2 separate regions of the Homo sapiens genome follow, and region 2 is reported to be linked to region 1. The links are microRNA targets in miRTarBase. Many come from high-throughput screens and were not tested one by one. Region 1 holds a microRNA gene; the other region holds the end of a gene's coding sequence.

What was found. Region 1 holds the annotated microRNA hsa-miR-3689d (GGGAGGUGUGAUCUCACACUCG, at 2,741-2,762, opposite strand). A microRNA usually pairs through its seed, bases 2 to 8, with sites in the 3' UTR of a target mRNA and lowers its output. Matches are read on the target gene's strand: a 7mer-m8 pairs with bases 2 to 8, a 7mer-A1 pairs with bases 2 to 7 and ends in A, and an 8mer does both.
Region 2: miRTarBase lists ESPL1 as a target of hsa-miR-3689d. Seed matches in the 3' UTR shown: 7mer-A1 at 394-400.

The regions. Positions count from the first base shown.
Region 1 is chr9:134,846,920-134,850,606 of GRCh38, forward strand. MIR3689D1 (microRNA 3689d-1) reads right to left here and starts at 2,763; the gene lies at 2,690-2,763. MIR3689C (microRNA 3689c) reads right to left here and starts at 2,450; the gene lies at 2,379-2,450. MIR3689A (microRNA 3689a) reads right to left here and starts at 2,645; the gene lies at 2,568-2,645. It overlaps MIR3689B (microRNA 3689b), which reads right to left and starts at 3,353; the gene lies at 3,206-3,353. It also overlaps MIR3689D2, MIR3689E and LOC101448202.
Region 2 is chr12:53,293,128-53,296,379 of GRCh38, forward strand. It overlaps ESPL1 (extra spindle pole bodies like 1, separase), which reads left to right. Exons shown (of 31, transcript NM_012291.5): 31 at 146-511. The coding sequence ends at 347. PFDN5 (prefoldin subunit 5) reads left to right here and starts at 2,415. Exons shown (of 6, transcript NM_002624.4): 1 at 2,415-2,512; 2 at 2,712-2,814; 3 at 3,117-3,148. The coding sequence starts at 2,441. RefSeq lists enhancers at 2,098-2,637, 2,123-3,252.

The sequences.
Region 1 (3,687 bases):
TTCATCCATTCATTCATTCATCCATCCATTCATCCATCTATTCATCATTTATCTGTCCATCCATCTATCCATCCATTCATCTATCCATCCATCCATCTATTCATCATTTATCCATCCATCCATCCATCCATCCATCCATCCATCCATCCACTCTTTCATTCATCCATTCATTCCCCCATTCCTTCAGTGGCAGTTCATTGACCACCTGCTGTGTGCCAGGCGGGAGCAGCAGGGGAGAACCCACCCTCAAGGAGATGCCACTCCAGGGGACACGGGCTGACCAAGACCCACAAGGCAGGGGTAAGGTGTGCCCAGAGGAATGAGACCTGAGGAAATGTAAAGGGGAGGAGACAATGTGCATGTGTGTGGTTGTGTGTGTGTGGGGGGGGTGATGTGCATGTGTGTATGGCACGTGTGTGCATGTGCTATGTGGTGTATTTTGCATGTGCTATTTGTGTTTATGTGAAGTGTATGTGTGTTGTGTGTGTACCTGTGTGTGTGGTGTGCCTGTGTGGTGTGTGTGTGTGCCTGTGGGGAGCTGTGCCTGTGTATGTGGTGTGTGTGCCTGTGTGTGTGGTGTGTGTGGTGTGTGTGTGTGTGGTGTATGCCTGTGTGTGGAGGTGGTGTTTGTGCATGTGCCTGTGTGGTGTGTGTGCTGGCGTGTGTATGGTATATGTGTGCGTGCCTGTGGGGAATGTGCCTGTGTGTGTGGTGTGTGCTGCATGTGTATAGTGTGCATGCCTGTGTGTGTGGTTTGTGCTGTGTCTGTATAGTGTGTGTGTGGGTGTGGTGTGTGTGCCTGTGTGTATGGGGTGTGTAGTGTGTGTGGGGTGGGGATTGAAGTGCTCTCCTGGGTGACCAGGGCCACTGGGAAGGTTCTCTCTGCCTGGAGCCCAGCGGGCAGGAAGGGCTTTGCAGGAGAGGGAACAGCAGGGCAGAGGCCAGAGGGAGTGGGGAGAGGAAGGGGAAGTGGGAGGGGGCTGGTGTGGCCTGAGCAGAGATGGGGAGGGAAGCCACACGGGGCAGTAACCCAGACGCAGGCTGGGGGCGGTGCAGACCCATGAGAGTGGGTCACACTCCGGCTCCAGGTGTTTCAAAGATGGGGTTGATGGGATTTGCTGAGAAGAGGAGGTCGAAAGTGAGACGAGAGAATTCCAGGAGATGCTCAGCCACAGGCATGACCCCCACAGTGCCGCAGGAGCACACACACACGCGCACACACGTTTACCCACTGACAGCTGTGGCCTGGTGAGACCAGGCTGAGGACAGCTGCCTCAGCGACCCAGGCTCAGATGCCACCAGTGCCCCATGTGGCCTCGGGGAATCTGCTGCTCAGAGCTCCTGTCTGCCCATTTGCACATGGGACCCATGAATGGAGGAGGCACTCTGGCCATGTGGCCAGAGGCCCCGCTCCTGTCCTGCAGATGTCTTGGTGACGAAACCCGATCCATGCATGTGGAGGAAGGTGGGGGCATCCCTGGAGCTGGCCTGTGCCAGGCCAAAGTGCTCCTTTGAGCTGCCCAGGGCTGTCCTAGTGAGTGTCCTCAGGCTCTGGCCACCCAGGAGGGCCAGGGGCGTCTGCATTCGGGAGTGGGTTGGAGAAGGGGACGATGGGAGAGCAGGAAGCTTTTGCAACTGCTCCAGGGCCATTGGGAGGGTGCAATTGGCTGACACCCGGAACTTCATTGATGCTTACCCCACGTGCCCTCTGTGTGGGTCCCGCTCCCAGTGCGGACACCACCTCCTAGCTCTCACTAGCTCATGCAGGCCTCTGGGGCCCTCCTGAATCCACACCTCCCAGGGCTGGGTCCTGGTTGTTCCCCAATGGGGAGCTGTGCCTCTCTATCACCAGCAGGCATGTGATCACACCTCCCAGGAAGCACAGGATCACACCTCCCAGGAAGCACGGGATCACACCTCCCAGGAAGCACGGGATCACACCTCCCAGGAAGCACGGGATCACACCTCCCAGGAAGCACGGGATCACACCTCCCAGGGAGCACGGGATCACACCTCCCAGGGAGCACGGGATCACACCTCCCAGGGAGCATGGGATCACACCTCCCAGGGAGCACGGGATCACACCTCCCAGGGAGCACTGGATCACACCTCCCAGGGAGCACCGGATCACACCTCCCAGGAACCACGATATCACACCTCCCAGGAAGCACAGGATCACACCTCCCAGGAAGCACAGGATCACACCTCCCAGGGAGCACCGGATCACACCTCCCAGGGAGCACCAGATCACACCTCCCAGGAACCACGATATCACACCTCCCAGGAAGCACAGGATCACACCTCCCAGGAAGCACAGGATCACACCTCCCAGGAAGCACAGGATCACACCTCCCAGGAAGCACGGGATCACACCTCCCAGGAACCACAATATCACACCTCCCAGGAACCACGATATCACACCTCCCAGGAACCACGATATCACACCTCCCAGGAACCACGATATCACACCTCCCAGGAAGCACGGGATCAGACCTCCTGGGGAGCACGGGATCACACCTCCCAGGAAGCACAGTATCACACCTCCCAGGAAGCACGGGATCACACCTCCCAGGAACCACGATATCACACCTCCCAGGAAGCACAGGATCACACCTCCCAGGAACCATGATATCACACCTCCCAGGGAGCACAGGATCAGACCCCCCAGGGAGCACAGGATCACACCTCTCAGGAAGAACAGGATCACACCTCCCGGGGAAGACGATAGCACACCTCCCAGCGAGTGTGAGATCACACCTCCCAGTGAGCGTGGGATCACACCTCCCAGGAAGCATGGTATCACACCTCCCAGGAAGCACAGGATCACACCTCCCAGGAAGCACGGGATCACACCTCCCAGGAAGCATGGGATCACACCTCCCAGGGAGCACCAGATCACACCTCCCAGGAACCACGATATCACACCTCCCAGGAACCACGATATCACACCTCCCAGGAACCACGATATCACACCTCCCAGGAACCACGATATCACACCTTCCAGGAAGCACAGGATCACACCTCCCAGGAAGCACGGGATCACACCTCCCAGGAACCACGATATCACACCTCCCAGGAACCACGATATCACACCTCCCAGGAAGCACAGGATCAGACCTCACAGGGAGCACGGGATCACACCTCCCAGGGAGCACGGGATCACACCTCCCAGGGAGCACGGGATCACACCTCCCAGGGAGCACGGGATCACACCTCCCAGGGAGCACGGGATCACACCTCCCAGGAACCACAATATCACACCTCCCAGGAAGCACGGGATCACACCTCCCAGGAACCATGATATCACACCTCCCAGGAAGCACAGGATCAGACCCCCCAGGGAGCACAGGATCACACCGCTCAGGAAGAACAGGATCACACCTCCCAGGGAAGACGATAGCACACCTCCCAGCGAGTGTGAGATCACACCTCCCAGTGAGCGTGGGATCACACCTCCCAGGAAGCATGGTATCACACCTCCCAGGAAGCACAGGATCACACCTCCCAGGAAGCATGGGATCACACCTCCCAGGAAGCACAGGATCACACCTCCCAGGAAGCACGGGATCACACCTCCCAGGAACCACGATATCATACCTCCCAGGAACCATGATATCATACCTCCCAGGAAGCACGGGATCAGACCTCCCAGGGAGCACGGGATCACACCTCCCAGGAACCACGATA
Region 2 (3,252 bases), not on the chromosome of region 1:
TCTGTTCTTCTCTTGTAACCAAGGGCCAAAGGAGTTTCTCATTGGTTCAATCCTCTCCACTCACCCACCCCCACCACCAATGGTGTTTTCCTATGTATTCTGTTTTAGAGCCCTTACTTTGTATTTCCTCCTTTTCTTTTCCCAGCCCCTTGTTTCTGGGTAATCTCTGGGATGTGACTGACCGCGACATTGACCGCTACACGGAAGCTCTGCTGCAAGGCTGGCTTGGAGCAGGCCCAGGGGCCCCCCTTCTCTACTATGTAAACCAGGCCCGCCAAGCTCCCCGACTCAAGTATCTTATTGGGGCTGCACCTATAGCCTATGGCTTGCCTGTCTCTCTGCGGTAACCCCATGGAGCTGTCTTATTGATGCTAGAAGCCTCATAACTGTTCTACCTCCAAGGTTAGATTTAATCCTTAGGATAACTCTTTTAAAGTGATTTTCCCCAGTGTTTTATATGAAACATTTCCTTTTGATTTAACCTCAGTATAATAAAGATACATCATTTAAACCCTGTTTTGCGTAGTTTATCTGAGAACATTTAAAGACACGGCATGACTGCCCCCTTCCTACTATGTGGTACTGTAAGCTGACAGGAACAGGTTACAGCAGATCAAGTTTGAGTGCTTGGGGAAGAAAGGCAAAGACACAGGACAAAGCCTGCTGGGCCTGGCTGGGCCTCAGCAGACAAATCTGGAGGAGAAAGGGGCATCAAAATGCTAAGTAGAGACAGGCCCAAGGAAGGGTAGTGATAGACCCTTTGAGAGTGTTTTGGCCAGGTACCATCCGTCCGTCCTGTCTTCCTGCCGCAGGTATCTTTGGAGTGGCACTAGTGTTTTGTTTTTTGTTTTTGTTTTTTTTTGAGACAGAGTCTTGCTCTGTTGCCCATGCTGGAGTGCAGTGGCGCAATCTCGGCTCACTGCAACCTCTGCCTGCTGGGTTCAAGCGATTCTCCTGCCTCAGCCTCCTGAGTAGCTGGAACTACAGGCACATGCCGCCACGTCCCACTAATTTTTGCATTTTTAGTAGAGACAGGGTTTCACCATATTGGCCAGGCTGGTCTCGAACTCCTGACCTTGTGATCCACCCTCCTCAGCCTCCCAAAGTGCTGGGATTACAGGCGTGAGCCACCGCGCCCAGCCATGGCACTAGTTTTAATGCCTCAGTTGCCCTGCCTGCCTCCTAAGTAGATGTTAAAGGCTACTGCTGTCTGCCCATGTACACCTGTTACACTTACCAATGTGTAACTTTAGCAGTAGAGTCTGTGGATCTGTGGAGTTCTAGTGTGGTTTTTCTCTCCAATTGTTAAGCTCAAGGGAAGCAAGTATCTTACACTCTCACGTATCCCTCACATACAGCACATGGTAAAACCTTTTTTTTTTTGAGACAGAGTCTAGCTCTGTTGCTAGTGTGCACAATCACAGCCTACTGCAGCCTCAACTCTCCAGCTCAAGCGATCCTCCCACCTCAGCCTCCCATGTAGCTGGGACTACAGGCGTGTGCCACCAGCCCGGCTAATTTTTGTATTTTTTGTGGAGACGGGGTGTCGCCGTGTTGCCCAAGCTGGTCTCAAACTCCTGGGCTCAAGCAATCTGTCCTTCTCGGCCTCCCAAAGTGCTGGGATTGCAGGCGTGAGCCACCATGCCCGGCCAAAATATTTTATTGATTAATTTGTGCTGTACTTGGTTGACAATGGCGCTTCCTTGCTGTTCTCCCACCACCTCACTGGCAACGGGTGATAAACCCTTTTTCAGATCCTACTACGTGTCAGCCTACTTCCGGCTGGGGGAAGATGGTTATAGCGAGAGGGGAAGAATTGGTTCAGTGATGAGAACATGGTTGGTTCCTGCCTTCGACAAGCTTTCAATCTAATGCCTGTTTTTTTCCAAGGACAATTCAGAACGGTCTGACAAGGGATTTTTTTTTTTTTCCTGCCTTTCGGCCTCAGAGGCCATCTGGGAAAAAGAGTTTAGAATTTCCCTGCCATTTCCATGCCGTGCTGGGAGGAACATTTGAAATCGGGCCTGGCGGGGTACCAGCAGGCAGCAATAGCAAGCGGGGTGGAGAGGAGCAGGGCCAGGCCCCCGAGCCGTCGCCATGGCAATCCAGCCTGCTTTCCAGTAGCTTATACCACCCACGTGGAGTAGCATACACTACTTTGTAATATCGTGGTTGTGTCGTGAGAACTTTAAGATTTTGCAGTTCCTTGTAGGCAGGAGTCCTGTTTGCTGCTACTTTACAATACTAGGCTTAAGACATTTTATGAAATGAACTCACACAACAGTCTCTGAGAGGCTCAAGCCCCTCCTTCCCTTCCGGGACGGAGGATCATAGAGCTGTCTGGCGCAGCGAGGCCTCCCGGCGCCACCGAGACGCGCAGAGGACGGCTAGAGCGTTGCTCGCCGAGAGACTTCCTCTTCGTTAAGTCGGCCTTCCCAACATGGCGCAGTCTATTAACATCACGGAGCTGAATCTGCCGCAGCTAGAAATGCTCAAGAACCAGCTGGACCAGGTGGGGACGGGCCCCAGAGGCACCTCTTTCCTGCTCTACATCCCCCTTGCCCACGCGTACTTCTCGCGCCCGGTTCCAAGTTGGCAGCCTACCTTTCCCAGGCGAAACCTCTATCCGATCCCAGGACCTGCCCCCTCCCCGGCCGCGCTCCTTTCTCCCCTTAGTCCTCTCATTGACCCGCTATCCCGGTCCTCTGTAGGAAGTGGAGTTCTTGTCCACGTCCATTGCTCAGCTCAAAGTGGTACAGACCAAGTATGTGGAAGCCAAGGACTGTCTGAACGTGCTGAACAAGAGCAACGAGGGTATGGGGTAGGCGGGTGAGGGTAACCTAAAGTGGCGAACCTGCTTCTCTCGTCCCACCTCCTAACCCAGTTTTTCTTACCTGAAACGAGAAAATCCATTACATATCGTATACCGCTTCATGAACCCTTTGCATGTTGCCTGCCTAGAATTGAAAAGTACAGGACATTCCTCTGCTCCTATTGCCCCTGTTTCCGTTCTTTTCACACTGTCTGTGGGTGCTGTGCCCTGTTGGAACTCTCTTTAACGTCTTACGTTGGAGCCGCTAACCTTCCCCAGGTGTTTGTCTTCATTGCTTTCACAGGGAAAGAATTACTCGTCCCACTGACGAGTTCTGTATCCTTTCCACAGGAACGGCTACCTGCTGCCTTCTCCCTTTCTCCTTCACTCCCCCAAAAAGCGGGGAGGGGGATTGTTTTGATTACTTCAGATTACCCTCT